2 separate regions of the Homo sapiens genome follow, and region 2 is linked to region 1. Evidence: fine-mapped expression QTL. A gene starts in region 1. The other region holds a variant in brackets. All regions are shown on one strand. Distances are from middle to middle. Region 1 holds the start of DCLRE1B (DNA cross-link repair 1B). Region 2 holds the start of HIPK1 (homeodomain interacting protein kinase 1).

What was found. PIP is the estimated chance that this variant, and not a neighbour inherited with it, causes the effect.
Region 2: its variant is fine-mapped to the expression of DCLRE1B in whole blood (INTERVAL, PIP 0.94).

The regions. Positions count from the first base shown.
Region 1 is chr1:113,900,784-113,911,082 of GRCh38, forward strand. DCLRE1B (DNA cross-link repair 1B) reads left to right here and starts at 4,543. Exons shown (of 4, transcript NM_022836.4): 1 at 4,543-4,992; 2 at 6,213-6,378; 3 at 7,226-7,408. The coding sequence starts at 4,804. AP4B1 (adaptor related protein complex 4 subunit beta 1) reads right to left here and starts at 4,016. Exons shown (of 10, transcript NM_001253852.3): 1 at 3,822-4,016; 2 at 1,855-2,079; 3 at 972-1,102; 4 at 453-600. The coding sequence starts at 3,934. It overlaps AP4B1-AS1 (AP4B1 antisense RNA 1), which reads left to right. Exons shown (of 5, transcript NR_125965.1): 5 at 1-454. RefSeq lists enhancers at 3,652-3,711, 3,792-4,351, 4,382-4,431.
Region 2 is chr1:113,922,502-113,935,198 of GRCh38, forward strand. It overlaps HIPK1 (homeodomain interacting protein kinase 1), which reads left to right and starts at 6,823. Exons shown (of 16, transcript NM_198268.3): 1 at 6,823-7,031. HIPK1-AS1 (HIPK1 antisense RNA 1) reads right to left here and starts at 7,024. Exons shown (of 3, transcript NR_110726.1): 1 at 6,861-7,024; 2 at 5,743-5,887; 3 at 1,500-1,831. RefSeq lists an enhancer at 6,734-7,053 and silencers at 7,174-7,223, 7,244-7,553. The variant C/A (reference allele first, on the strand shown) is at 7,198.

The DNA.
Region 1 (10,299 bases):
AATTCTCTCAGTGGAATGTGAGGGAGTTAATAGTGGTTAACTGGCCGGGCGCAGTGGCTCACGTCTGTAATCCCAGCACTTTGGGAGGCTGAGGCGGGCGGATCACCTGAGGTCAGAAGTTTGGGACCAGCCTGACCAACATGGTGAAACCCTGTCTCTACTAAAAATACAAAATTAGCCGGGCATGGTGGCGCATGCCTATAATCCCAGCTACTCGGGAGGCTGAGGCAGGAGAATTGCTTGAACCCAGGAGGCGGAGGTTGCGGTAAGCCGAGATAGCGCCATTGCACTCCAGCTTAGACAACAAGAGCAAAACTCCGTCTCAAATAATAATAATAATAATGGTTAACTTTCTTTTCTACCCCACATAAGTTGTTCAATACTTTAATACATCAACAAGATCCCACAAGGTAGCAGATCTCATAATAAAAAGAGTGCTGAGGCATCCAAACCGATTTAAGAGATGGTGAGCAATGGGCTTATTGATGACAACGCCTCCTTCCTGTTTCAGAATTTCCTCTAGAGACCTCAAGCAGTTCACAACTACAATTGGATCCTGGTCACGCAGCAAACTGTATAATTCATTTACCAGGGCACCATCTATAAAAAAGAACAAAGTTCTTAGATAAAGAAGGAAAGCTTCAGAGTAACAAGGATGTAGCCAGAGTAATAGCTCCAGGTAGACAAAGTTGAACTTCTCTGCTACAAAAATGACAAAGGCCACACTAAAGTGCAAGGCAAAAAAAAAACTGCCATGTCCAGACTGTTCTAAGCAGCTAATACAAAGGATCTCATTGGGGCCCCAGAGAAAGGACTTCTCATCTCCAGAAGATACCAAGCCCTGCATCCTACTTAAAGAGATATGTACAGAACTGGGGCCACATTATTATTTTCTACCAAAGCCACACAATCTTTTTTAAAGTTATACATAATGGAGGCACATTGACCATGATGGATTACACTGAACTTACCTACTTCAGAGTCTCCATGAAGATTATGCATCTTGGCACATCCAAGGACTGCCACTCTCCTGACATATGAAGCCTTATCCCGCAGACCATTGAGAATAGGCTGTTGTATATACTCCTGCACACCAGGCATCCTAAGCAACACATCCTGGAGTTAGCCAGATTCTGAAATACTAATTTTGACATACCTCAGCCCCTGTTCACCTAACAGATGGTTTAGTAGATGCTGCACCCATCAGATCATGAAGAATTGCAGAAAGCCTCTATCAAGCTTAAAAAGCCATAATTTGACTTTTCTGTTTTTTTCTTGTTTTTTTCAAGATGGGGTCTCACTTTGTCACCCAGTGGCCCGATCATAGCTCACTGCTGCCTTGAATTCCCGGGCCCAAGCCATCCTCCTGCCTCAGCCTTCCTAGTAGCTGAGACTACAGGTGCGTGTCACCATGCCCATTTAATTTTTTGTAGATATAGGCTCTCACCATCTTGCCCAGCTGGTCTCAAATTCCTGGGCTCAAGCAATCTTCCTGTCTAAGCCTCCCAAAGTGCTGGGTCTACAGGCATGAGCCACTGTGCCCAGCCTAATTTGACTTTTCATTTGGAATAATGATGCACAGGCAGCAAAAAAAGATATACACATAATTGTTTAGAGATATTTAACCAAAACTGAGGACTATTTTACTTAGAGTGAGAATCAAAAACTCCCTCTAATAAAATTATATGATACAGGTTATTAAGCCAAAGCAGTGGCTGAAAATCTGAGTTCAGGGTACAATAATGTTTTCCCCAGTATTAAGGAGCTCAAATAAATTATCCTCTTTAAAAACCTACCCTGTGATCACTTGAATTCATCAGCCATTTAGGACCAGACAGAGAAGAGGGTACTCACCTGAGGCTACACATGCTCCGTAACGCCAGCCCTCGCACCATTGGATTGGGGTCTGAGCAGTCTTTGCACAGCGTATTGATGGCCAGGAGAGCCAGATCTGGTTTCAGGGGAGCATATGTGCACATGTACAGATAAACCAACTTCTTCTGGACAATATCTACAGTGGCACTGGCCTTCACCATTTCCATAAAAACACCAGACATGTCCAAGCCTTGAGTCATGTACCTGAACAACGCACATGACAGAAGGAAGTAAAATGCAAAATCCCCAACTTACAATGGAGGGAGTTTTACTTACATATCTCCTGATTACCCAACTAGATTGTGATCTCTTAGAGGGTAGCAGCCAGGATTACCTTGTCTATTATATCACACAGTACTTCATACCATAGGCCTACAATAAACATTATTCTTCTATTCATTCAACAAACACTTATTATTATTTTTGAGACAGAGTCTTGCTCTGTTACCCAGGCTAGAGTGCAGTGGCACAATCTCGGCTCATTATAAGCTCCGCTTCCCAGGTTCAAGCGATTCTCCTGCCTCAGCCTCCCGAGTAGCTGGGACTACAGGTGCGTGCCACCACGCCCAGCTAATTTTTGTATTTTTAGTAGAGACGGGGTTTCTCCATGTTGGCCAGGCTGGTCTCGAACTCCTGACTGCAGGTGATCCACCCGCCTTGGCCTCCCAAAGTGCTGGGATTACCAGCGTGAGCCACCGCACCCAGCCTCAACAAACACTTATTGAATCCCTAGTACTTTGGTGAAATTCAACTTTTACATCCAGGGACATGCTCTTGGGACATAATCTTGAAGAAGGTGTGGTCTCAAACCTCTAGGAACTTCAAATCTATTAATGAGCCAGATGAGAATACCGTTAATTACAGTATGATAGATAAGTACTTAAACAGAAGTATTGTACAAGGTGTAGAGGGGATTCAGAGGTCTGACACTGGCAGGAAGTCAGAAAATGTTTCTTCACAGAGGAAGTAATACTTTAGCTGAATGAGCAGGAGCTCACTAGGCAGATGTAATAGCAAGGTAAAGATACATGCTATGAGGTAAGTAGACATGAGCAGGAGCAGCACACATTTTTTTAAGAGTCTGTAGGTAGTTGAATTAACAGCTTGTTCCTTGGGTGCTGTGATAAGTTTGGACTTTATTGTTTCTCAGACTGGTCTCCTACTGGAACCAACTGAAATGTTTATTAAAAATACAGATTCCTGGGTTCCCTCCCACCCTACTGAAATCAGAATCAGTCCCTGGACTGGATGACAAAAAGCACCCCAAGGGATTTTTATGCATAGTAAAGTTTGTGAACCATAGCTGTAGGCAAGAGTTATGTGTTCAGGTATGTATAATGGAAAAATTCTGTCTCAAATGAGGCAAAGTGGCCTACTAGTAAGCTGCTGCAATTGCTTTATTGATGAAGGCCTGGACCAGAACAACAATGCTAATAAACAAGAGAGGATGGATATTTAGAATTATGAATTCAAACCATCTGACATAAGAAGTGAGAGATCAGGTGTCCTCAAGGTTGGCTCCCACGCATAGTCGGCTGCTGGTGGCATTCATCAACACAAATGTAAGCTGAACAGGTTTGAGGAAGACGGAAGAATGTCCGGGCTATTTCGGACATACTTTTGATAAACCACGCACGTGGAAATGCCAAGCAGGCAGTGGGATACGTGGGTCTGAAGCTAAAAAAGGAAGTCTGTACTAGCTATATTATAGATCCAAGAGTCACCAGTAATTGCTCAAGCCCGTGATATGGAGGAAACTACCCAGCTGAGTAAAAGATGCTGCAGAGGGGAGACTGACATGGTACTCCAAAGCAGCAGGACGAAGACCGAACCATATAACTGCCACGTGTGAAAGCTAATTCACCCTTTCAGAGAGACTGGGGCTAGTGAGCCCTGATGGGGATTGCAAAGGGAGCAGTTAGCACGCGAAGGGAGGTAGGTGATACCTAATCACTCGCTGGATGACATTCCGGTAGCGCAGCCTATCAGCTTGAATGTGAGGATTGCACAGAGCCTTCTTCAGCTCCTTCACCACGTCCTCGGAGCCAAGGTACGGCATCTTCCTAAGAGTCACAGGGCAGCTCCCACAGCTCCCACGGTAACTCGAGGGCTCCTTCTCGTCCTGATGTGGGAGCCTGAGTAAAGGAAATATGAGTCAGTGAAAATACAAAAGGCGAGATCTCGCCTCAGGCTCGGCTTCCGTAGGGCCGGCACGCTGGCCCTGACACACTTCCACGCCCTCCGCGACACCGCGAGCCCCACCCTAGGCTCTTCAGGCCCTACCGTCGGCCGGCAGGCCGTTCGCCCCGCCCACAGATCGCTCCCGCTACTTCTAGGTCCTCCGCCGGATTTCCAGCGCCGCGTCCGACTGACCGCAGACCCCTCCCTCTCCAGTTCCAGCCTTAATTCCCCCTCCACGCCGTTCTCATCGCGGATAGGCCCAATCTTGCTTTCTGCGGAAGTCCCGCCCCCTTGTCAAGAGACCAAACAGAAGACCGCTGCCGGTCTCCCCGCGAGCGAGCGCTAAGCGTAGTCCCGACTCCGACCTTAGGATGCCCTTCCCCCAACCTCTCACTCTCCAGGCGCAGCTGCGCGGCTCCCTCTGGTGGAGCTGCGGCGGGCAATCGGAAATCGGCTACTTTGGCCTGTCTCCTCCCTGCAGCGCGCGCTTTGAGTGCCCGGCTCGGCCTCCGCTCCCGCGCGGTTGGGAGTGTCCAGCGCCCTCCGCGATTTGGGCTCCAGCGGGCAGGGTGACTTCCTTTTTCTGCCCACTCTGGTAACTTATTGCTCTGCTGGGCTCTTTCCCTTAGGGTCTCTGGCCCTGTTCTTGCCCCAGCATGACTTTTATCGGGACGCCGTTGTGGAAGCCTCACGCAGGAGCCCTGCCCCCGTGGAGAAGATCCCACTGGTGACTCCAACCCTACCACCATGAATGGGGTCCTGATCCCCCATACGCCCATCGCAGTGGACTTCTGGAGCCTGCGCCGGGCTGGCACCGCACGTCTCTTCTTCTTGTCTCACATGCACTCGGACCACACCGTGGGCCTGTCTAGCACCTGGGCCCGGCCCCTCTACTGCTCCCCAATTACAGCCCACCTCTTGCATCGTCACCTACAGGTATGGGGCTGGAGTCGGTCTCCGAGAGCTGGTCCAGGCATCTGGGTTGGGACTTCAACCTGTCATTCTTGGAGTCATAGAATGGGGGCCACGAAAACTGATTTGGAAGTTGTTTGAACCCAAAAATGCATCTTTAACCCAGAATAGGAACGTGTTTTCGAAGTGACCAACTTGAGATAGTTAGCCATAAGTTGAGGAGATATTTTAATCCAGCCAAGGAAACTATTCCTACCTTTATAAGTAAGCTAGGCCGATGTTTCCCAAACTTGCCTTTTTTTTTTTTTTTTTTTTTTTTTTTTGAGACGGAGTCTCGCTCTGTTGCCCAGGCTGGAGTGCAGTGGCGCAATCTCGGCTCACTGCAGCCTCCGCCTCCCGGGTTCAAGCGATTCTCCTGTCTCGGCCTCCTGAGTAGCTGAGATTACAGGCGCACGCCACCACGCCCAGCTAATTTTTTGTATTTTTTGTGGAGACGGGGTTTCACCATGTTGGCCAGGCTGTTCTCTAACTCCTGACCTTAAGTGATCCGCCCGCCTCAGCCTCCCCAAGTGCTGGGATTACAAGCGTGAGCCACCACGCCCCGCCTAAACTTGCCTCATCTTAAGAATCCACCTAATGTGCTGGGTGGTTCTCCAGCTCTCTCCCCACCCCACCCTTAAGTCTCCAAGAGATTAAGATCAGGAGTAAGTTTGGGAATTGCTGACTAGACTGTTTGCTGAACTCTTTTTTTTTTTTTGAGATGGAGTCTCGCTCTGTCGCCCAGGCTGGAGTGCAGTGGCGCAAACTCGGCTCACTGCAAGCTCCGCCTCCCGGGTTCACGCCATTCTCCTGCCTCAGCCTCCCGAGTAGCTGGGACTACAGGCGCCCGCCACCACGCCTGGCTAATTTTTTTTGTATTTTTTAGTAGAGACGGGGTTTCACCGTGTTAGCCAGGATGGTCTCGATCTCCTGACCTCGTGATCCACCCGCCTCAGCCTCCCAAAGTGCTGGGATTACAGGCGTGAGCCACCACGCCCGGCCAGCTGAACTCTTAAATTGTACAAAGGGTGGGATGGGAAGTGGAAGGAGGAAGGGCAGATTGCTTGGGAATCCCCATTACAGCTTCTGCTCCCGGTGGCTCAGGATTTGGTCAGCTTTCCTGATTCATGTAAGGGATAGTCCCTGACCCGGGGAGGTAACGGAGAGGAGTCAGTGGTCACTGGGATGACTAACTGTTTTCTCAGGTATCTAAGCAATGGATCCAAGCCCTGGAGGTTGGTGAGAGCCATGTATTACCCCTAGATGAAATTGGACAAGAGACCATGACCGTAACCCTCCTCGATGCCAATCACTGTCCTGGTTCTGTCATGTTTCTCTTTGAAGGATATTTTGGAACCATCCTCTACACAGGTGGGCCTCTCAAGGAATCCCAGTGACTTCTCCAGACTAGATGTTTTTTTTTTTTTTTTTTTTTTTTTTTTTTAATGTATAGACTGGGGCCTCGCAGTGTTGCCGAGGCTGGTCTCAAACTCCTGACCTCAAGCAATCCTCCCGCTTCAGCCTCCACAGTAGCTAGGATTATTGGCACAAGCCACCACACCTGGCAGACTTTTCTTGAGCAGCCTTAACTCAATAGAAGTCTGGAGGCGCTGGAGGCCTTCTAACTTCATCACATATGAGCATAGTGACCCCATCTCAACTGATTTCCCACTGTTTTTTTTTCCTTCTTCTTTTTGAGACGGAGTTTCACTCTTGTCACCCAGGCTGGAGTGCAGTGGCGTGATTGTGGCTCACTGCAACCTCCGCCTTCTGGGTTCAAGTGATTCTCTTGCCTCAGCCTCCCAAGTAGCTGGGATGACAGGCGCCTGCCACCACGCCCAGCTAATTTTCGTATTTACTATTAGTAGAGACGGGGTTTCACCATGTTGGCCAGGCTGGTCTCGAACTCCTGACCTCAGGTGATCCACCTGGCTCGGCCCCCCAAAGTGCTGGGATTACAGGTGTGAGCCACTGCGCCTGGCCGATTTCCCACTCTTTAAGGGTCCGAACCTTGTGAAGAGTAATTGAAAAATAGGAGTAGGATGGAGACATTACAACAAAGAAACCATGCAGCTATACTGCCTAGTTCAGTGCCAGGCTACATAATAGTTTTTTCACAGACTAGTAAGCAAACGCCTGTCTATTGTTGGAGGTAGGAGAGGCTTGTCTTCTATTCTTTTGTCTCTGACCTTCTGCCCCCATGTACATATTCCTCCAGGTGATTTTCGATACACACCATCCATGCTAAAGGAGCCAGCCCTGACACTGGGGAAACAGATCCATACTTTATACCTAGACAACACCAATTGCAATCCAGCCCTGGTTCTTCCTTCCCGACAAGAAGCTGCCCACCAGATTGTCCAGCTCATTCGAAAACACCCACAACATAACATAAAGATTGGTGAGTTGTTTCCTTTCAGTTTCCTGTCACCTGTAGATAGTGAACTAGATTCTTTAAGGATTCTCACATCTTTCAGATCTTTGTGCAGTTCTCACTTTCTCCTACACTGACCACCTTATTTAAAATTGCAACCTGGCTAGGTGTGGTGGTTCATGCCTATAATCCCAGCACTTTGGGAGGCCAAGATGGGAGGGTCATTTGAGCCCAGGCGTTTGAGACCAGCTTGGGCAACATGGCAAGACCCTGTCTCTACAAAAAATTTAAAAATCAGTTGGGCACGATGGTGCGTGCCTGTGGTCCCAGCTACACAGGGGACTGAGACAGGAGGATTGCCTGGGTCCAGTAGGAGGTCAAGGTTGCAGTGAGCCATGTAAGTGCCATTGCACTCCAGCCTGGATGACAGAGCAAGACCCTGTCTCAATAAATGAATGAATGAATGAAATAAGTAAAACTGCAACCTGCCCACCATCCCCATTCCCAACTCCTGATCATCCATACCAATTCATTTTTTTCATTTTTTTATAGCACTCATATACTATATATATTTTTAAATATGCTATTGCTTACTTGTTGTCTATCATGCACTTCCTCTGGCCCATGCACATACGCGTGCACACACACACACACACAAGCATAAACTCCTTAAGAGCATCACTGGAAATGGGAAGAGACTTTGTGTGTTTGTGGAACAGAGAAGCAGCAGTCAGTATGACAGGCACACAGTGGGCAAGGAGGCTGAAAAGGCAAGAGGGGCTGAAGTGCTGTTAAGCCATTTTGGACTTGATCCTAAACCCAACCAAGAGCTATTGAAGGATTTTAAGTAGAAGAGGGACAATATGCACTCATCACCTTGCAATATATTCTATAATTTATGTATTTATTGGACTTTTTATTGTCTGATTCCCCCTGCTAGAATGTGAATTCCACTATGGCAGTCTCTGTTTTATTATGGGTGTATCACAAATGCCTACACTAATGCCTGACACAGAAGCATTCAATATGAATGAATGAAATTTATCAGAACATAGATATTTAAGTGAGCGTTGTGCTTTAAATTAAGTATACTGAAAAAACAGGTTTGTGCTTGTTGTACTGATTATAAATAGTATAAAACATTGTTGAGGACTCTTTCTTGGAGTTGCCATTTGGAATAGTTTATGAAAATACATTTTTGTTTTATAAAATAAATAAATGTAATAGATTTGGTTCTAAATTACTTTTTTGGTTGTTTCCAAATTTGTGAGTCTACAAAAGGACAAAGACTTGCCACCATTATAAATATTTGAAAAGGACATGTCTCAACTCTGAAAGGAGTTTCAAAATGAGACTAAACAAAGGCATTGAAAAAATTATATAACTTCCAGGGTGACTACCAAATCGATTGAGAAATATCCTCTACTCTCAGGATTGCTTAGCTACTTATAAAGACCTAACCATTCTTAATATTTTAATGCAGAATTTTCTCAAAAAAGCAAAGCTGGCTAGGAGGATGCTATAGTAAGCCTTAATTAATTTTGCAAATATGTAATAAGCCTCTACCCACTAAGTACCAAGTATCCAATAGGCAGTGGGGATATAAAGATGAATAAAATATAGTCTCTGACTTGGAGGGCTCACAGTCTGGTAGGGAAGGACCTGTGGGGAGGTGGAAGTGGGAATATATATAGAGAGAAGAAAAATCCGCTCCATTTGTGCCCAAGGAGTGAGATTTTGAACCATAATCAGGAATAAAGTGGATATAAATAATATATACTTCTTTTTATGGCGTTCACAATCTGGTTGTGGATTTGAAACTTCTTCAGAAAAAGTCTGAGAACAGCTATTAAACAACATCTCCCATATCTGTTACCATAACCATTTCCCAAATTAATGTCTCCATTTCTTTCTCTGTAAGTACTATTTGGGCCCTTCAATTGAAACTTCCACTCCAGCTTCTTCTCATCCTGGCAGTCAAATAATATTATTACCATATTTTTCTTTTTAAAGCCCTGCTCTGAGCATATTATTCTTATGATTAGAATTAGCCATTTTCCTGCTTCACACTCAGTGGCTCCCCTTCACTTACACAATGAAGTCCAAGCTTCTTAGCGGTACATATAAGACGCTCTATTATATGGCCCTTGCTTGCCTCTCTGGTATCATTTCTTATCAATTCCTTTTTTACTTTAGTAACAGCAAACTGACCCCTCTTAAAATGTTTTCCACTATACCCTTTCTACCCTTTCCTTGCCAGGTTAACCTTGCCCATCCTTTAAGATTTAGCCTAACGTTCCCTAACTCCATCACCTGTTAGATACAATACTGTATACTTTTTTTGTTTTTTTTTAAGAGACAGGGTCTCACTCTGTTGCCCAGGCTGGAGGGTAGTGGCATGATCACAGCTCACTGCAGCCTGGACCTCCCGGACTCAAGTGATCCTCCCGCGTCAGCTTCCTGTGTACCAGGAACTATAGGCGTGCACCAACATGCTTATTTGTTTATTTTTGTAGAGACAGGGTCTTGCCAGGTTGCCCAGGTTGGTCTTGAACTCCTGGGCTCAAGCAATCCTCCTGCCTCAGCCTCCTAAAATTGTAGGCTTACAGGTGTGAGCCACAGTGCCCGGCCTGTACACATATCTTTAACGTTGCTCTTAATTGTGGTTTTTCTGGGTCTCCTTGTAGATAGTACTTCTTGAGGACTGACAGTTTTCTTTATTAGTTTTCATGGTGCCTGAAACTTGCTAGATGCTCTCTTTTGTTGAACTAAATGAATGAGTGGATTCTGTGTCATTCCCTTTCATATGTCTTAGCTCAAATGCCACCTCTTCCTTGATATTCTCCCTGGATTTCTCCATGAATTGTATCTATTTTTGTTAAACATTTTGTTGATTTATTAGGATTTTCCAATAGCTT
Region 2 (12,697 bases), 23 kb after region 1:
AATTAAATTCACAGTCAATGACGATAATTGTTATTTTGAGGTTTCTTCTTTTTTAAATAGAGATGAGGTCTTGTTATGATGCTCAGGCTGGTCTTCAACTCCTGTCTTCAAGCAATCCTCCTACCTCGGCCTCCCAGTCCTGAAGTTCTGGAATTACAGGCGTGAACAATATGAAGTCTCCTTCCCTCCCTGACATCCTTCCTCCCTCCCTTCTTCTCTCTCTCTCTCTTTTTTTTTTTGTTTGTTTTGAGACAGGATCTGGCTCTGTCACTCAGGCTGGAGTACAGTGGCACAAGTCTCAGTCTCTTGTGCTGAAGCAATCCTCCAACCTCAGCCTCCCTCTCAAGTAGCTGGGACCGCAGGTGCACACCACCACACCTGGCTAATTTTTAATTTTTTCTTGTAAAGATGAGGTCTCACTATGTTGCCCACACTGGTCCTTCAGCTCCTGGACTCAAGCGATCCTCCTGCCTCAGCCTCCGAAAATGCTGGGATTACAAGTAGGAGCCATTGTACCCAGTCCTTTTGAAGTTTCTTAACCCCTATTCTATAGTTAACTGATCCTGATGCTTTGAGCACTGCGAATAAGCGCTCAGTAATTTACTCATGAAAACAGTTATAGCACCAACCATGTGTAAGGAATTGTGCTGGGCAGGGGACACTTCATTGGGGCTTTTTGATTTCTGAGTTTGTGGGAAGTACAAAATGACTTAGCACAAATAATATTCAATTATTAAATTTCAAGTTCCTGTTCTGCTCCATTGCCCTTTTCATGTGGGTCTCTGTGTGCCTTCCCAAACCATTTATTTTGGTTTTAGATATTGCTTGAAATTGATGATAGGGAAAGACATATGGAATGCAGATGCTAAATTCTGTGTAACAGTTGGTCAAAGAAAAGGTGAGAATCTTAGAGTGGGGAGGATGATTTTTTAAAAAAAGAAAAGGTTAGAAACTACATAACAGAGGAAGCATAATAATGAGAAATGCTGACCCAAGGAAAGGGAGAAAAAGCACTATTCCTTGCTTTTGCTACATAAACAGTTGGTATATGAGAAAAGTGAGAAAGAGTAAGATCATTATGTGTAGAAAAGGGTGACATTAGAAATGATTATGGAGGAAGGAGGGTCTGAGGAGTCATAAACATGGGTTATATAAGGAGTCAAGGCATTTGTTCTTTCCCCACAATAGTCTCTGGGTTGACCCTTGAAAATTAAGGGTAATTGTGCCTTGTCTCTAAATCCTGAAAACCTCCCTCCCTGCCACCCCACTTTTTTTTTTTTTTTGAGACAGGGTCTTGCTTTGTTGCCCAGGCTGGAGTGTAGTGACAAGATCATAGCTCACTGCAGCCTCAACTTCTAGTGGTCAAGCAATCCTCCCACCTTACCCTCCTGAATAGCTGGGACTACAGGTGTGTGCCACCACGCCTGGCTAATTAAAAAAAGAAAGGTTTATCCTCCAAGACATCTGAATAAAATTGTTATAGAGACGATGACTCACTATGTTGCTTCCTTTTTTTTATTTAGGTAAAATCGACATATTACTAAACATTTTAAAGTGGACAGTTAGTGCATTTAGTGCATTCACAATGCTGTGCAGCCATCAGCATGCTCTAGTTTCACCTCCCCTTTCATTTATTAGGAAAGCTTGTATTCAAATCTTCTTTAATCCCATAATATGCCCATTCATCCAAACTCCTGTTCCATTATTCCATCATTTCTGCTAGGACCCAGTCCCCAAAATGTCCATTATTCTAACCCCTGTCACTCTCATGCTAGATATTGTCCTTCATGAAACCAGATGAGGGGCCAGAACAACTTTTCCTGGTTTATACCTGTGAGAAGAGAAGTGATAGAGAATGTAGTCAAAATGATTCATTTCATAACTTCTCAGATGTAGCTGATGTGGACCCAAGCAGATTCCTTGGATATTGAGAGCTGAATATGGGTATTGACCAGAATAGATTCTACCATTCAGCTGGACCAGGCCATTCTTCCCAGATTGTCAGTCACCACTCATACTATGAGTAATCCTATATAGGAACCACACAGCTTCTGCCCAAACTATGCCACTAAAACCGCTCTCTCGAAGATCAAATACTATCTCTCTCTCTCTCTCTCTCTCTCTCTCTCCCTCTCTCAGAGATGGGAGTAGTGGCTCTCACCAATATCAGTAATATCTATCTATCTATCTATCTATCTATCTATCTATCTATCTATCTATCCATCCATCCATCCATCCATGTATCTAATCTATCTACCTTAGAGATGGGGGTCTCAATATGTTGCCCAGGCTGGATTTGAACTCCTGGGCTCAAGCAATCCTCCTGCCTCAGCCTCCTGAGAAGCTGGGACTATAAGCACATGCCATCATGGACCAGCTAGCAGTGACCTTTCCATAAGCCCCTGAGGTATGGGGATTGTTTGCTACACAAGTTAGCTAAACCTAACTATTCATTTGAATAGGCAACGGACAGTGTCTGCCAAATTTCCCTATGCAAGCTTTCTCTGCTAAGGATACTCAAAAGGAGTCTTAAGAGAAAAATCTTGGTAATACCTAAGGCTTGCAACCTGAGGAAAGGGATGAGCAGGGAGGCTGAAGGGCTGATATTCACATACAAGCATTCAGTAATAAATCACTGTGGGCCTAATGCTCAGATCTTTTTTTTTTGGTCGGGGGGACAGAGTCTTGCTCTGTTGCCCAGGCTGGAGTGCAGTGGCATGATCTTGGCTCACTGAAACCTCCGCCTCCCGGGTTCAAGCAATTCTCTGCCTCAGCCTCCCAAGTAGCTGGGATTACAGGCACCTGCCACCGCGCCTGGCTAATTTTTGTATTTTTAGTAGAGATGGGGTTTCACCATCTTGGCCAGGCTGGTCTTGAGCTCCTGACCTTGCAATCTACCCACCTTGGCCTCCCAAAGTGCTGGGATTACAGGCGTGAGCCACCACGCCCAGCCATGAAGAACATTTTATTACCCCTTACCAGAAAAAGTCCTGTATTCTTCAAAAATATTAAAGACAAAGAAAAGCTGAGGAACTGTGCCAGATTAAAGAACACTAAAGAGACATGACAATTAAATGTAATATATGATCCTAAACTGGATCTTGTGCTGGAAAATAAAAAAAATGCTAAGAATGATGTTATTTGATCAACTGACAACATTTGGAACATGGATGGTAAAGTATTACAGCAATGTTAAATTTCCTGGAGTTGTTAATTGTATGTATTTTGTTTACATAAGAGAATGTACTTATTAGGATATTCAAGTATTATGTGGTAAAGGAGGATGATGCATGCGATTTACTTTTAACTGCTTGGAAAAAAAAATATGTACGTGGGCTGGGCACGGTGGCTCACACCTATAATCTTAGCACTTTGGGAGGCTGAGGTGGGTGGATTGCCTGAGTTCAGGAGTTCAAGACCAGCCTGGGTAACACGGTGAAACCCCGTCTCTACTAAAATACAAAAAAATTAGTCAGGTGTGACAGCGGGCACCTGTAATCCCAGCTACTCGGGAGGCTGAGACAGGAGAATCGCTTAAACCCAGGAGGTGGAGGTTGCAGTGAGCCGAGATCATGCCACTGCACTCCAGCCTAGGTGACAGAGTGAGACTCTGTCTAAAAAAAAAAAAAAAAAAAAAAAAAAAAAAGGCATGTATGTGTGTAATATAACTCTATCTATCTATAACTGCAAATGATAAAGCAAAAGGGGCAAGATGTTAATAATCTGGGTCCTCTTTTTGTCACTCTTGCAACATATCTGTATGTTTAACATTATTTCCAAATAAAAAGTATTCTGGGGTCTGGATTTTTAAAAAATCATTGAGGTTCTCCTCCTGTTGGCTCAAGGGACTTTTCTGCTTTTTATCGTTTACTGCAGACCTTCACTCTAATCTGGTTTTCCCAGTTTCACAACCTGTTGGCTTCTATTTAAATTCTCTTTTTTTTCCTAGCCCCTAGGATTCACTATTTGTTTGAATAGTTTGCCTAGCTTTTTGGTTCAGCTTCTCTCAAGACACAGCCTTCTCATCAGCTTCTCCTATTTGGCCTTAAGCACTGCCGCTCTTGGGCAAATGACTTCTTGCCTGCAACACTGAATCTAGGCTGTAGGCCCTAGAAGGATGTCATACCCTGAATGAAACTTGAATGCTTCCGATTGCTAACTGCTCCACCTCCCTCTCCAGTTGCTCTGACTTGGTTTAGGAGGATGTATTTCACATATCTGCCCCTTCTCGCCTTCTTTCCTGTGTAATCAAACCCTCATCATAGTTTTCTGATTAGGATCCCTTTCTCCAGTCTTTACCCACTCCAGCTAGCCCTCTTCCTTCACCATCACTAGTTCTCTCTCACATTACCTGTCTGAATAAACTTCTTTTTTGAGACAGAGTCTGGCTCTGTTTGCCCAGCCTAGACTGCAGTGGCACGATCTCGGCTCACTGCAACCTCTGCCTCCCGGATTCAAGCGATTCTCCTGCCTCAGCCTCCCGAGTAGCTGGGATTACAAGCATATGCCACCATATCTGGCTAATTTTTGTATTTGTAGTAGAGATGGGGTTTCACTGTGTTGGCCAGGCTGGTCTTGAACTCCTGACCTCCAGTGATCTGCCACCTTGGCTTCCCAAAGTGCTGGGATTACAGGCATGAGCCACTGTGCCTGGCTACCTGTGCGAATAAACTTCTAACAGCTCTACATTGCCTTTCAAAATCTGACTCAATTTACCTTACTACTTCCAAATCGTGCAACTTCTCTGCTTAACTGTAAGCTCCTTCAGGGCACAGACCATGCCTTTTCTTCTGTGTATCCTTAATTTCTTTTTTTTTTATTTCTTTCTTTCTTTCTTTTTTTTTTTTTTGAGACAGAGTCTCACTGTCGCCCAGGCTGGAGTGCAATGGTGCAATCTCGGCTCATGGTAGCCTTCTTCTCCTGGGTTCCAGCGGTTCTTCTGCTTAAGCCTCCAGGGTAGCTGGGATTACAGGCATGCGCCACTACACTTGGCTAATGTTTGTATTTTTAGTAGAGACGGGGTTTCACCATGTTGGCCAGGCTGGTCTCGAACTCCTGACCTCAGGTGATTCACCTGCCTCAGCCTCCCGAAGTGCTGGGATTACAGGCATGAGCCACCACACCCAGCCCCTTAATTTCTTATATAGTGCCTAGCACACAGAAGATGCTCTATAAATAGTTACTGAATGGACAAATGACTAAACTTTGAAACTTCTTTGACCTTACTATGCTCAAATATCACTTCTGATGTTCTTCTCCGACTCTCTCACTTATCTTATATATGTCTGCACACGTTTTTTCCTCATTAGACTGTAAGGTCCCTGAGGGAAAAGACCATGCTTTATTCACCTGTCTCATTCATACCTGACCCAGTGTCTAGAAGAGTGTATAGCACAGAGCAGGCACACAAGCAGTTTGCTGGATGAATGAGTGAATGATACTAAAGAGGAGAAAATACAGACTTTAAGAAGCTCTCCGTATAGTGAGAAAGACTGAGGACCTAAGAGCAATGAAAATAGAAGTTAACAAGTATAAATAAAGAAGGTACAGGTTAATTTAAGTAATCAGATGATGATGCAGAATTCAAATAAAATAGGAGTCAATCAGCAAAGGTTCCCGAAAGGGTGAATTCTGAGAGATATTTGAAAAGAGGAAAGGGACATAACTTGAGAGAGCAGGAGTTTAGGAACATGTCAGAGAGTTAGGTTGAACCAAGGCATGATAAACATGTTTGAAGCTTACATTCTGAGCAGGATCTGTTCTACCCAGACCACAGGTTTCTGCCTTTTTTTCTGGCTCATCAAGCAGGCATGTTTACCCACTCTTTTTATCTTCATGTTTCCCAGGTCAGCCCAATGTGAGGACTTTAAGTAGTAGAAGGAAGTTTCTGTGAAAATATGCAAACAAAACTGCCTTGTGGGATCGAACATTTTTGGTAACCCTAGTTCTCTAGGGAAATAAACTTCCCTGTTCCAGATAAAATGGAACTGCTCCCCGTGTTGTTAAGCCAGAGAGAAAGCCAAATGACTTCCCTTAAAAGGTACTTCAGCGCATTTTACACAAATCATAGTTTTCTGTGTGTGTTATGGGGATCCAAGGAAATCAAAGATGTTAATGAGTGAGATTTGAGAAACAAAACTTGATAGTAGAATTTTGTCTTAGCCACAACTGCCCTTCTCCTCACAGAGTATATGCAAATACCGATGGTGACGGACAGTCACTTTCTAGAGCTCAGATCACTGCTGCCTCCAGCACTTGTGGGATGGAAAAAATGAAGAAATTACAGTTGCCCTAAAAATGTCCCCCACTTCAGGAACCTGAATATTTTACACAGCAGGAGATACATCGGAAGTCCTACAGAATCTCTTGACTTTGGGAGATGCAACTGCTTTTCTATTAGGATAACCTAATTTTCTGTGTCCATTTTCTCAGAATGTTGTGCCCAACGCGTTCTGTTTCCTAAATACCCAGCCTTCCTTCTGGTAGAGGCAAGAAAATTATGCTAGCATTCGCTCACTGCATGTTTTGAGCGTTTGAGTTCAGAGTACAGCTATTCTCTCTCCTCGTAATGTAAACACAGGTTCCCACGGCGGCAATGGGAGACTCCCCTAAGGGGCTCTTGACGTACAGGGAGACTTCCAGATATGGTACACAGATGTCACATTGCTAGAACGTCTCTAGACGGCAACGAAACATTAAAGCCTAACCTGAGGTAATCCCTCACCGGCAGTGAAGCTCCTCTGCTAGGCACTGTCGTCCCGTACACTGCCCAAGCTCTGGGGGTGTCACACTAAACTGTGGTGATGTCACACTAGCTGGGATGACATTTTACAGTTGGATCCCGTACCACCGCCAGGCACCTTTAAATCACCGCAGAGTCTGCAGTGCGGAGGGGGCGGGAAGTCCAGGCCCCGCACTCGATCCACGCTGGCTCCCTACGGAGGCCCACCTACTCGAGGCCCACCGACTCCTACTGCAATCAGTACTATGCGATCGTCCTAGAGAGTCCATTCAGCTGCACTTCCGCCTCAGTAGGTGTCATGGCGCGGGGCGGGTGAATAGTTCCGGCGAGGCGGGGCCGGCCGGGTTGAGGGACGGCCGCTCGGCATTCCGTTCGTCGGGTCTGGCGACAACGGCGGCTGCGGAGCAAGGGGCCCGGCGGTAGCCCCGGACGGCAGCAGGAGGCCGAGGCGGGAG[C/A]GCGCGGGGCTGAGGCGGCGGCGGCGGCGGCGGGAAGGGGCTGGGTGGTGGAGCGGGAGGGAGGCTGAGGAGGCTCCCCCTGCGGGACGGGCGCGGGGACGGCTCCGGGGGGCGGGGGCCGGGGCCCGGGCCGGCTCGCGCGGGGGGTATGATGACCCGGCTGCGGGGCCCCAGATCTCGTCTCCTCCGCCGCCTCCTCACGGCAGCCCCAGCTCGCGGCTGAGAACCAGACACACCGGCGGTGAGTGGGGACGGGCAGGAGGGGTCCTCGGCGGGGAGCGACTTCCCCTCAGCTCCCTGAGGCGGGGCCGGGCCGGCCGCCGGCTCTCCTGGAGCGCCCAGCCTGCCGGGGGCGCCTTCCTCAAAGGGCCCCTGCCTGGGACCGGGCGCCGCGTCTTGCGGCCCGGCCGCTCACTGCCGCTGAGGGGATTGCCTTCCCAGGAAGGTGGGGAGGCTCCGGGCTGGTTTTCGGGGCAACTCCCCCTGCCTCCTGCCACTTCTCGCCTGGGCGTGTTGTCCTTAAGTGACAGGGGACCGCCTTGCGTCTCCTCACTCGGCCGGTTTTTTCCCCGGCTGTCGTGGCAGGTTCCCAGTGTGTGGCTTGTGCGTGTGTACTTCACAGCTCCGCTTATCACCATGGTTTTGGGTTATTTGTGCTGTTTGGGACCAGGAAGCCGTGCCTGGAGAGGACGACAGTGGGGTGGGTGTGGAAGCTTTTCTGTCGTCTCCGCTGATGTTCTGTAGTCGTTAGGCTTGTAATTCGTAATGACGGTGGAGACTACGTGAGACCAGCCCACCTAATGTATATCTGTACAAGGGAGATCTAGAGGTCTGGCCCAAAGGGAAACTTTTGCTGCCACCACTTTCAAAGCTTTCGTTAAAAAAACAAAAGGGAGGGGGAAGGTGGAGAAACAACCAAAATTCTGGTAAGGCCCACACTGTTCACAGGTCTGTGGGGAAGAGTCCCCTTTTTGTGCTTAGCAACCAAGACGTGGAGTTCCGTCTCCAGGAGCGTTGGTCTAACCTCCAGTTTGTTGTGGTGACGAGCTGTGAGCAATGGCCTGTGTTTATGCTGGGCGAGCTTTCTTTCCTACTTGGGGAGGGGGGTTCAGGATGGGAGGATGCGGGTAGGGAAGAGGGGGGGAAAACCCCCAAGCTCCAGTAAGTCTTTTCTTTACTTAATCACTGATTCTGTTGTAGGTAGACTCATTTAGAGGCAGTCCTAGATGCTCTTTCTTGTCTATTAGTGACACTTTGGGAATTCTCAGTAATTGCATCAACATAATACTTTCAGCTATAGACTCTCTGTCCCAATCTGTCCTTTATCTTGTTTCTTAGTAACTGGTGAAAACAGCAGTGTGGCTTCCCGCTCTTGATGAAATAGGGTTAAATTAAGTGGCTGATGCCCTCAGCAAACCTACAATTTTCCTTTTGTTTGTGTAAAGCTATTTTTGATCTCTGGTCTGTGGGTTTTTTTTTTTTTTTTGTAAGATTATAGAGAATGCAAACTATTACTAGCTTTTTTCATATGGAAGCCTAAAGCTTTCTATAAAACATTTTAAAATCTAACAAATCATTTGACCTAATTTTCATTATTCAGCTGGTGATTTTGGATCTTTACATGTAATTATCTCAGGGTTCTGTGTTATAATACTGTTATGATGAAGGGTGGCATTGACTTTAAGATACTGTTCCTGGCTTGAAAGATATTTTAGTAAAGTACTTGCGGTTGGAACTGGAGGCAGCCAAGCCAGTAAAGTATCTTAGAATAAAATGGTGAATGAGATCTTATAAATATACTGGCTCTGGTTGGCAAGTAGAACTTTTGCTGGTGATACCTTCATGAATAGTTTATCTCTCGACACTGTAGTTTTGTGGTTTTTTGAGCAAGTTCGTTGGTAACTTGAGACTTCAAACCAAACCAGAACTTCCTTCTAAAAGAAAAAAAAAGAAGAGATAATCTCAAAGTTCACAATTCTTTGGAAAATAAACTTCTTTCATTCTGTGCTTTTGTTTTTATAAGCACAGCTCCATCAATGATTTGTTGGTACAAATCAGTGAGTCATACCGGCCTTGTAAAGTTCTTACACTTGGAACTTGTGCAGCTTGTTAGTTATATATTGTAACTGGTCTTGTAATTTGAAGTAATTTTGCAAACATGAGCTGCTTGATCTGCCACCTGCATGAGTGTATAACAGCAGTCTGTATTTTTTAGGTCTTTTTAAAAAAAATTTACTATTATTCCTCCCGTTATCTTCCCTTCCTCTCCCTTTGTGCCATTCTGAACACAAGTCATCAAGATTATTTTCCTTTAAGTACCACTTCAACAATCACTGGTTTGTCTTTTGGTTCCTTTTGTTTTTGTTCCTGATCTTCCCTTTAGTTGTTGGAACCCAGCTCCTAAATGCCTAATATATTCCTGTAGTGCATAATTTGGCACTTGAAAAATTTACATCCTGTTTTCATATTTTTCTTTCTTTTTCATGTGTTATATCATTTCAGCAACATTTTAAGTTTTTTGAAGGTAAGGAAACTTACATTTCTTTTAGATTCTTTAAGGGTACCTGGTACAGTGCTTTCCCAGAGTGCTTAAGGAAAAAGAATGAGAAGACCTTTGCCAGCATTGCTACTCATTAGCGCTGGGTAAAACTCGTTTGGCCTTTTTGGATCTGTTTTTTTTTTTTTTTTTTTTTATTTGAGACAAGATCTCGCCCTGTCGCCCAGGTCGGAGTGCCGTGGTGGGTTCAGGCTGGAGTGCAGTGGTGGGTTCAAGTGATTCTCATACCTCTGCCTCCTAAGTAGCTAGGACTACAGGCACTACAGGCACGCACCACCATGCCTGGCTAATATTTGTATTTTTAGTAGAGATAGGGTTTTGCCATGTTGGCCAGGCTGGTCTCAGACTCCTGACCTCAAGTGATCCACCTGCCTCGGCCTCCCAAAGTGCTGAGATTACAGGCGTGAGCCACCATGCCTGGCCTGGATCGCCTTTTTCTCATCTCGGAATTAGGGGGTTTTAGAATCTTTAAGGTCCCTTTTATCTGTAAGAGTTCCAGTACTTTTTTGCTAGTGTCTTCTGCTCCAGTTAAATATATCTCCTTACTCTACACGGTTTTTTATTTTTCCACATCCTTTGGCATACTAGCATAGCAAAAGTCATCTCATTCTTCTGAAAGAGCCTCCTCCATCTTCCATTCTCCAAACTGCTGTTGCCTTACTTAAGTCCCGTTTTCCTTCAGCCTTTGCTGGCATATTGTTTATGTTTCATATTGATCTCTGCTTTGTTAATTTTAACTTTTTCTTATCCTGGAAACTCCTCAAGGTATAGTTTTCTTAATTCTAAGCTTTATAGACCTATAGACTGTTATGTGCAGGTACTAAAATGTAGTACCTTTTTACTAAACACAAAGCACTTACTTTTCTTTTGTTCTGTTGCCGTAGTCATTCCAAATAAATCTAAGTGAACTATTGATTTTGATACAAAGCAACAGCCTCTGCCACACTGAAGAAGTGAGCTTTAAGCAGAGACTAGAAGGGTAAGTAAAAGTTAGGAAAAGAAAAGCCTAAGGGGGAAAATGAAGTTCAGAGAGGAAACATGTTGAAGGAACTAGGGCCAGAGAAGGCAAGGTCTATTGTGGGAACCCAGAGAGACTTGGTAGTATTGGAAGAGAAAGTGCCTGGGGAAAAGCGCAGATGAAACAAGGCTGTGCAAGTAATCGTGGTCCAGATCTTGCAAGGCCTGGTAATCCAAATTAGGAATTTTGGTGTTTGTCCTAAGGTTTTAAGTGGGGGATAGGTACACTTTTTTTTTTTCAGATGTGCATTTTTAAAAGCTTCAGTTGAGAGGTGAATAATGAATTGGGAGAGGGGAGCTTAGAAAAGGGGCTTGAGGCCAGCATCGTGGCTCACACCTGTAATCCCAGCACTTTTGGAGGCTGAGGTAGGTGGATCACTTTAGGAGTCTGAGACCAGCCTGAGCAACATGGTGAAACCCTGTCTCTACAAAAAATACAAAAAAATTAGCTGGGCGTGGTGGCATGTACTGGTAGTCCCAGTTACTCGGGAGGCTGAGGTAGGAGGGTGGATTGAGCCCTGGAGGTCCAGGCTGCAGTGAACGAACCATGATCGTGTACTGCACTCCGGTCTGGGTGACAGAGTCTCAAATAAAGGGGGGAAGTTGAGAGTACAATTTGGAGGAAACCAGTTAAGCTGTTTAAGTATGGGATTGTGCAGTAGGGGTGGAGAAAACTTAGGAGAGTAGAGAGAGATTTAGGTGTTCTGTTGGGAAGAATTTTCTTCCCAAACTTGTCTCACTTTGTTTTTACAGAAGATGTACTCTTATCATCTGTAAAAAATATGTATCAGAGTATGTGATAGACAATATGTATACCTGTGTTCATGTCATCTGAGGATAAGTGCTGGAGCAAGAAATCAATATATAGTACAGTTTTTAGGTCATTTGGCTAACCAGCTGTTAAATTGTATGAAAGAGGCAAAGATAACATTGAGCAAAAGCAACAGGAATTTATTACTGGTGTGTCAGGAAAAAGGTTACTGAGGGGTAAGGACAAATCAATGGAAAATGATTACCTGGGTTGTCTTATCCAACTGTTCCATTCAGGGTTATAATATTTGGATCCTTTTAATAAGATTATTTGCCTATAGTGCTTATAGTGTGGAGCACCCAGTAAATAATGTTAAATGGATGTGACCATGCCAGGGAGTGGGAAAGTTGTTAATCTGTTTTTGAAAGCCTTGGATTCTAGCTATTATCTTTTAGCAATAAGTACAAGTACCAATGATCTTTTGCCCATCATTGCTACTTTGGTATTAATGAACTGGGCAAATTTGTCATTATATTGAGATGGTTAAGTCCTTGGAAAGTCAGATTTGAAATGTAAAGACTTCATTTATTGCTGGAGTCAAGAGGCGCAGCATTTTCAGGAAGTCAAAAATAACTTTTTATGCCAGGTACGGTGGCTCATGCCTGTAATCTCAATATCGTGGGAGGCCAAGGCAGGAGGAGGATTGCTTTAGAGCAGGAGTTTGACACCAGCCTGGGTGACATAGTAAGACCTCATCTCTGAAAAAAAAAAAAAAAAAAAAAAAAAATTAGCCAACTGTGGCATGTGCCTGTAGAAATTAGCCAAGCGTCCTGGTGTGTGCCTGTAGTCCTAGCTACTTGGATGGCTGAAGCAGAGGATTGCTTGAGCCCAGGATTTCGAGGATACAGTGAGCTGTGATCACACCACTGCATTTCAGCCTCACTGACAGTGGTGAGAACCTGTCTCAAAAAAAAAAAAAAAAAAAGAATCAGCTGTTTTTTTTTTTTAAACCTTTATTTTAGGTTCAGGGGTACATGTGCTGGTTTGTTATATAGGTAATCTATATGTCACAGGGGTTTGGTGTACAGATATTTTGTCGTCCAGGTAATAAGCATAGTGCCTGACATTTATTTTTTCTGATCCTCTCCCTTCTCCCACCCTCCACCCTGAAGTAG